Linked DNA regions of Homo sapiens. The protein of the gene in region 2 interacts with the protein of the main gene of each other region in a pairwise test. Each region holds a gene or a part of one and is shown on either strand. Other genes may lie near its edges. The genes, in order: GRM2 and TMEM130.

Region 1 (3,804 bases), on a different chromosome or scaffold from region 2:
GTGAGTGTATGTGTGCGTGAGTGTAGGGTGCATGGGTATGGATTCATTTGTCAGGAAGATATATGTGTGTGTGCCAGCGAGTGTGTGTATGTGGGATATGTGTGTGTGCATGCATGCATGTGGCTATGTCTGTGTGTACAAGTGTGTGTGTGTGTGTGCATGCATGTGTGGGTACGGTGTGTGTCTCAGGTGAGTCCTTAGCTGCCTGTGATTGGCATGCAAATGCAAATCATATGCAAATGCAGGCTGAGTCAGAGCAGAATCCCTCCCCAGCCCTGGCCTCTACCACCCAAGCAGGTGGCCCAGCAGGTGCAAGCAGAGCAGCCAAGCCCAGCGGTCCCTGGCCCCCAGCACTGTGCCACCACACCTCTGTCCTGGGGAAGGGGCCTTTGCCGGGGCTTTCGCCTCAATTTTTCTGCAGTTCAGACCCTGCTCTGCACTCCCAAGCTGAGTGACCTTGGGCAAGGGATTGAACCTCCCTGAGTCTCTGTTTCTTCATCTGTAAAACGGGAGAGCCATGGAGCTTACTCAAGTTATGAAGATTAACCAAGATAATCTTCTTACTCAGAACATAGCTCATCTGTCACCTCCTCAGAGAGGGCTTCCCTGACCACCCTATCTGAAGCAGCCATTGCCCCTTGGAGCTGGGGAGACCCATTGAGACACAGTGCCAGTTGGAACCAAATTTGCTCAGAAGCCACCAACTGGGGAACAATTTTCACCTGCTTTAGCTTTTCTCAACTCTATACCCTGGATCTCCTCCCCTACCCACCTTGCTTCATCTTTCCTGCCTTCCCTGGCTTCATCTCTCAACCCCTTCTGCAGATGACCCCTCAGTGGAGCAGGGCAGAACCCTGTCCATTTGAACATATTTCTGCACCCCCATCACCTTCCAGGATAGGGGATGACATTCAAGTCCTGAAATCTCAGCTCTCTCTAACTCGAGTTCCCCACCTCCCTGGCCATTTCCCTAGGTCCTATTCAGCCCTCCCACCTTCCCCTTGGGATCCACACAAGCTGTGGTCCCCTGAGTGGGCATTATCCTCTTGGAACCCCAGAGCTACCAGTAGATTAAATAAGATACCAGGAAACAGAGGGTCTGGTGTCCCATCTCCCCCGACCTCTGTGGCAGGTAGCTCACCCGGTAGTCACTGGAGGTGACATAGAAGATGGGCAGGAATGCCAGCCAGATGATGCAGGTGGTGTACATGGTGAAGCCAATGAACTTGGCCTCGTTGAAGTTTTCGGGGCACTTGCGAGTCTTGAAGGCATAAAGCGTGCAGAGCGCGATGAGGAGCACATTGTAGGCCAGCGAGCCCAACATACTTGCATCGCGGTGGTTGCAGCGCAGTGTCACCACCTCCCGCCGTTCGGGGGCTGTCTCCTTGCCTGTGCCCGGTGCCTCCACCACCAGCCAGGCGACCACGATGAGCAGCTGGCCCGAGATAAGTGCCAGGCAGATGGCCACCTGTGAGGCAGGACTGATGAAGCGTGGCCGCTGGGCACCCTCCCGGGCCCCACCGAAGATGCGTGCAATGCGGTTGGTCTTGGTGAGCAGGGCTGAGTAGCAGACAGAGAAGGCAGTGCCCAAACCAAGACGCCGTAAGGTACACACTGCCGTGGATGGCTTGGCAATGAAGATGAAGGTCATGCAGTAGCAGAGGAAGACACCACCCAGCAGGATGTAGCAGAGCTCCCGACCTGAGGCCTTGACCACTGGTGTGGCATTGTGCCGCACAAAGACACCCAGCACAAAGAGGGTGGCCAGGGCACCGAGGCAGGCGATGGTGACAGGTCCCACAGCCCAGGCATCGCCCCAGCGGATGTACTCCTGGGGCAGTTCGAAGCAGCCAGTCAGGCTGGCATTGGGCCAGTAGCCCAGGCCACAATCAGCGCAAGTGAATTCGTCCAATCGGTACTCATAGGGCTGGCACGGAATGCAGAGCCAGCAGCAGACTTCGCCCGGCTGCACACTCTTCACCTCATTCTGGAGGCAGGGCTCACTGCAGCGAGAGGCGGGCAGGGGGCCGGCTGAGGGTGAGGCCCATGGGATGAGGCTGGTGTCCAGAGTCAAGCCTTCTGCCCAGTAGCCCACCTTCTGGTAGCGATAGCGCCCACTGCCTGCACGCAGATAGGTGAAGATGTTGTAGCGGCCAATACCATCACCAAAGCGGTCAAAGCGGACCTCATTGTGGGTGTCAGCTGGGCGAAAGGGGGCTAGGATGGGGGAGGGAAGGAAGAGAAGGTTGGACTAGTGTGTTACCCTGATGTGACCTCAACATTCACCCTAACATGGAACCCAAATGCCAGAGCTAAGACCACCATTAGCCCTTCCAATCCTTAACCCAATACTAAATCCTGCCTTGACCCCAATCATTTTTCTAAATGAGAGATGACAACAAAGTCTTACTCCTAAACTCCAACATCAAACCCCAACCCTAAATGCCAAATGTAATCCCAGCCTTAAAGCCCAGACATCTCCAAAAACCTAATGCCCACATCAATCCCCAACCATGACTCCCCAAATTCAACTTTAGTACTATCCAACACTTTCCAACCCAGGCTCCAAATCCCAACTTCATCGAAACATACACTACAGCCCTCTCCCCAAACTCAATGCTAAGGCTAAACCCAGTCTCAGCTCCAATCCTGTCCCCACTAATCCTAACAACAACCCCAGCTCCAGCACCCCTAGTCCTAACAGTCATCCTGGTGCAAACTGAATCCCAACCTCACTGGTCACCTGCAACCACTGCCATTCACCAGAATGTGGTCAGTGGCTGGAAAATCACTTCCTCTCTCCACCCCCACTTCATCCCCTGTAAACCTCACATCTCCCAGCCAGGCTCTAGCCAGGATTTACAGCCATCCCTGGCCCCAGTGAGAAATCAGGGTTCAAGAAAGCAGAAGACATGCTTAAGGCCCCATGAGTGAATAGTGCAGCCTAGATTCAAACCCAGGTCCCCTCAAGCACCTACTCTTTCTACTCAGCCTAAAAGTTCTCAAAATCCAACTCTAGCCCTACCATAAATTCCACCCAAGCCAAACATGCTGAATTTAGCCTTGCTCTAACATCAACCAAATCGGACCCCAGATTCCAACCCTAACCCCTACACTGATTGTAGCTAACTCTGAATGTCAGTTCTATTGGAAGTACTCTTCATCTTAACCCTGGGCCAGGGCTTCCAAGCTTTGTCTCCCACTGTTCCCACGGTGATTCTTCCTGAAGCATAGTGATGATCTGCAGCAGTCATTTCTCTTAAAGCTGGCACTCTTATTAAAATAACTTTTGATTTCAGGAGACTTTCAGGTCACCTTGAGTGGAAAATCAAGATTAGGAATAGAAATTTTCCCTGAAGCTAGGAGCAGTGCCACATGCCTGTCATCCTAGCTACTCTGGAGACTGAGGCAGAAGGATCGCTTGAGCCCAGGAGTTGGAGGCTGTATTGTGCCTGTGAATAACCACTGCACTCCAGCCTACAAAATATAGTGAGACCCCATCTAAGAAAAGAAAGAAAGAAAGAAAGAAAGAAAAAAGAAAGAAAAGAAAAAAGAAAGACAGAAAGACATTTTCCGTGAATATAGAGCGTCATCCTGATGCTCACCCTCAAGCCAGACTGATTCTAACTCTTGGTGCTGCCTGAGAATGGGCTTGAGGTCTCCTGGTCTCCACCTTTGGCAAGATAAGGAGACAGAAGACAGTGGGCAAGGCCCAAGGAGGAGCCAGAGACCCTCAAAATGGCGGGACCAGGCCAGAGGTCTACTCTCTGGAAGAAAGTGGAACCTCAGCCGTAGCTTCAGTTG
Region 2 (4,349 bases):
TGTCTTAACCCCAAAGAGGGAAATCCAGAAGCTGTGATGGGAGCTTTTCCACGCAAACAGAGTGGGTATATGATATTGAGGGACCTGAAGCCCGCATGGGTCACTGCTGCTGCCTGAGGCCACCCAACCAGTCTGTACTACCCTGGTTGGGCTTTGCTCTCCCTCCCCACTTTGGCTGGGAGGCAGCATTTGGCCAGGCTGTGGACAGAGAGGTGCATGGATGAGAGACCACCTCCTCCCTTATCCCCCTAACTCCTGGCACCCCTCTCCTCCCCATCCCCTCCCTGCCACCCCAGCTGAGAAGCGTGGGCCTGAGCGAGGCTGGCAGGTAGCAGGGACATTCGGCTGCATGCTAATGGCCAAACAGCATCTGCAGTGAGACAGACGCATGTTATCACGCAGATCGGTTGCCAGGGGAATGGATCAGGAGGGCAGCCAGCTGGGACTGGGAGGGGGGATGGGGGGCAGGGAGGGGCTGTGTCTGCTGCAGACATTGCTGCAGACACTGGCCCAGCTCATGGGAGCCCGCCGACTCCCCCACCACCACCTGCCAGCTCCAAGGACACTTTTTCTCAGTCTGTTTTTTCAAAATCAGGTGTGTCACAGCCCCTGGGTGATGCTGCCCCTGTTCCTCAGGGGTCTCAGGGATGGCCAGGACATCCAGGGTGGAAATGGACCAGGAAGCCTTTGCCAAATGTGGCTGAAGGAACCAATCACAGGGCCTGGTGCTCTACCCACCAAATTCATCTTTCCAGGCCGGCGTGGTGGCTCACACCTGTAATCCCAGCACTTTGGGAGGCTGAGACAGGTGGATCACCTGAGGCCAGAGGTTCGAGACCAGCCTGGCCAACATGGCGAAGCCCTATCTCTACTAAAAATACAAAAATTAGCCAGGTGTGGTGGCAGGCGCCTGTAATCCCAGCTACTTGGGAGGCTGAGGCAGGAGAATTTCTTGAACCCAGAAGGTGGAGGTTGCAGTGAGCCAAGATTGTGCCACTGCACTCCAGCCTGGGTGACAGAGCAAGACTGCATCTCAAACAAACAAATTCATCTTTCCATGTTTGGGAGTCCATGTGACATGGAGTTGGGGTATGGAGCAGCCAAGGCAGAGGTTTAGGGGACTCCAAGGGCCCCCCAAGTCACCCAGAGCTCAAGGGGCAAAAGCAAAAAGAGATGGGGCACTCACCCCAAAGCTTGGCCCATGGAAGAAACACCTACCTTTTCCAGCAACACAGCATGTGCAGCCCTGAACATTCTAGAAAATGGCTACACCAGTCCTTTCACACAGAATATGCAGACTACCCAAAACACTTCCAAAGAGTACCTCTAAAGTCTGGATAACACAACCCAGAATTAATTAATAGTCCAGTACATGGACTTCTGACTTACAAATCCCTGATTCATGGACTCCAGAAAGGGGAAGGGTAGAAAAGTCTCCCCGACGGGTGAGGGAGAAGATGTTTCCCAACTCCACTCTTAGCCACTGTGATTTTGACCACATCAAGGGTGCAATTGGCTAGAATGGGAACCACACATGATTTCCAAATAATTAATTCACTTTTGTTATTATTTTCTTTTTCTTTTGCAATTTAGGACACATTGAAAATCTCTGACACAAATCAACCTGATGGACAAGAGACCCCTTTCCTGTATTTCCAGGAGGAAATAGGTAATCTTGTCCAAGTGCAATTCCCATAAAATTCGTCTAATTCATCCCTGAGTTGCAGGTTTTCTTTGACCTCATGGTTTTTCTTTCACAAATTTTCATTAGATCCCTTGCTCTCTCTCTCCACCGCTCTTTTATGAGGGGGGAGGGGGTGAAAAGTGGTGGATAGTATTCAACCTTCTTAGCTGCCCACGTCCCATCTGTCCCTCGAATAGTCTTAAATCTGGGTCCTTTTATGGTTCCCAAAATGTGGCAGAGAGGTGGGTGCTGGCTTTCTGGCGGTGGGGAAGTGGGGGCAGTAGACACACAACCCTGCTTCCCCCACTCCCCCACCCACACACACACCCCAGGAACCTGTCAGCTCCGGGTCCATTTTGGAAATCACCACCAGAGAGGAAATGGCAGCCTGGCCTCCTGGGCTCTAAATTCGCATCTCCCCAAAGCCAGCACCAACACGGTGGGAAACCCCTCTAGATGAGGCGACATTTTAAGGCAAAAACGTTGCCCATCCCGTGCTCCCTGGGGGACTGGGGAATTGTGGCGCGATGACGGACCCTGGCGCATCCCCGCCTCCCTGCCTCGTCCTCCCCTCCCTTAGCGGGTGCATGGTCCCCAGGCATCGACGGATGCGCCGGCCACCCCCGCGCGGTTTCCAGGGCAGGGCCAGCCTGGGGGGGTGGAAGCAGGAATCCAGGGGGTGCGGGGAGCCCCCTCCAGTGCCCAGGCGACTTTGGGGAACAAGGATGAAAGGAGAGGGGAAAGGGCGCTGCAGTGGCCTCAGCCGAGGAGGGAGATGCGCGCAGGGCGCACGGTGCCACCTCCGCAATCCCTGCTCCCGGGCCCACTCGCCCGCTGAGACGGTTCCAGGCCCCGGGCGGGCTGCGGCTGCAGGGAGGCCGGATTGCCCAGCGCCTTACCTGCGGCCACCCCTGCCGGGGCCCAGGGCAGGAGGCAGGCAAGCCAGAGGATGCGGCCGAGGCGCGACCACACTGCCTGGGCCATTGCGGGGCCCGGAGCGGGAGAAGCGTGGGGCGGACGCGGAGGGAATGCAGCTGGAGCTCGAGAACTGCGGCGGTCGCTCCTCCGGGCGCGCAGCGCGGGCGGTGCGGGGAGGTGCGGGCGCCGTGCTCGCTCGTCCTCGCCGGGGGACGCTCTGTCGCTGCGCGCCGCCGCCGCCGCCCACAGCCCGCTGCGCGACCCCGGCCCACGTCAGCCGCGCCGCGCGCCCTCCTCCTCCTCCCGCCGCCCCTTGCTCCCGCGTCCCTCTCCACGGCCGCGTCCTCCCTCTCCGGGTCTCTTCCCACGGCCGCGCCCCCTGCCCTCCTGGAGTCCACGATCGCCCCTCCCAGCTTGCTTCCCCTCTAGGGGTTCCAGAGCTCCCTTCCTGCGCCCTGGCTCCTCCCCGCATCCCTCCCCACCCCAAATCCACCCCCGGCCGCATCCTTCCCCTCCACTACCCGAAACCACGCCCCCCGCACCCGCATTTTTCCCTTCCCCCGAGCCCCTCCCCGCCCTGGATCCGATGCCGCCGGCTCTGACTCAGCGTCCCCAGGGGCGTGCGCTGCGCTGCAAGCCGCCTGCAGGTCCCTTGGGGCTCTCCTCCAGGTGCCTTCTCTCTGCACGCTCGTGGCTCCGAGATGCTACTCCTCATTCAAGAACTGTTGAGAGCTTAAGGTGCGCCAGGCGTTGGGCGAAAGGCCTCGAAATTCCTCTTGCTGCTGCTGCTGCTGCTGCTTCCTCTTTTCTTTTTTTTTTTTTTTTAATCTTGAGACAGAGTCTCGCTCTGTCCCAGAATGGCGCGATCTCGGCTCACTGCAACCTCCGCCTCCCGGGTTCAAGCGATTCTCCTGCCTCAGCCTCCCTAGTAAGATGGGATTACAGGTGCCCGCCACCAGGCCTGGCTAATTTTTGTATTTTTAGTAGAGACGGGGTTTCACCATGTTGGCCAGGTTGGTCTCAAACTCCTGGCCTCAAGTGATCCTCTCGCCTCAGCCTCCCAAAATGTTGGGATTACAGGTGTAAGCCACTGTGCCCAGCCTCTTGCCCCTTCTTGATAGAGGGGCCTGAGCACCCGGCCCCTGCCGTGGGCTTGATGTCATCCCCCGGTTTACCCTCTCACAGCTGCTGTTAAGATGGGGCTCCTGCTCGTATCTGGGCCCAGGGCAACTTCTTTGTCACTGAGGGCCTTGTGGGAGTCAGGCTACTGCGGTGAGGGGTGACCAGCCTACACAGTTACTGCCATTTGCCTTAGAGGAGCAGGGCTGGGCTCTCCTAGAAGCTGGAGGGGCCTGGCTGGCCTTAAACGCTGGAAGCCCGGTGGGTTCTGGTCCCAGCTATGCTTCCGCTTTGCTACGGCTACCTGGGCGAGGGATCCTCCCACACAGTGAGGGCCTTTGACCTCCTCTCTGGCCCGTGGAGCACGGATGGACCATCACTGCACCACCCAGTGCATTGACATCAAGGCGTCTAAAGCAGGGGTCTCCAAGCCCCTGGCCGCCAGTACCAGTCCATAGCCTGTTAGGAACTGGCTGCACAGCAGGAGGTGAGCAGGGCCTGTGAGCCACGCTGAGCTCCACCTCCTGGCAGATCAGCAGGGCATTAGATTCTCATAGGAGCGCAAACCCTACTGTGAACTGCTCACGTGAGGGATCAAGGTTGCGTGCTCCTTATGAGAATCTAATGC

Evidence for each region.
Region 1: the proteins of TMEM130 (region 2) and GRM2 interact in binary tests that used the Homo sapiens proteins (3 or more experiments, as listed by UniProt).

What each region holds. Positions count from the first base shown.
Region 1 is NC_000003.12:51,713,475-51,717,278, reverse strand, and holds part of GRM2 (metabotropic glutamate receptor 2 isoform a precursor), read right to left. Parts: intron 3,316-3,804; coding exon of another isoform or gene 3,296-3,315; exon of another isoform or gene 3,255-3,295; coding exon of another isoform or gene 3,158-3,254; exon of another isoform or gene 2,218-3,157; coding exon 1,142-2,217; intron 1-1,141. UniProt on the Homo sapiens protein: Dimeric G protein-coupled receptor which is activated by the excitatory neurotransmitter L-glutamate. Plays critical roles in modulating synaptic transmission and neuronal excitability.
Region 2 is NC_000007.14:98,867,194-98,871,542, forward strand, and holds the start of TMEM130 (transmembrane protein 130 isoform b precursor), read right to left. Parts: upstream 2,822-4,349; 5' UTR 2,669-2,821; coding exon 2,584-2,668; intron 1-2,583.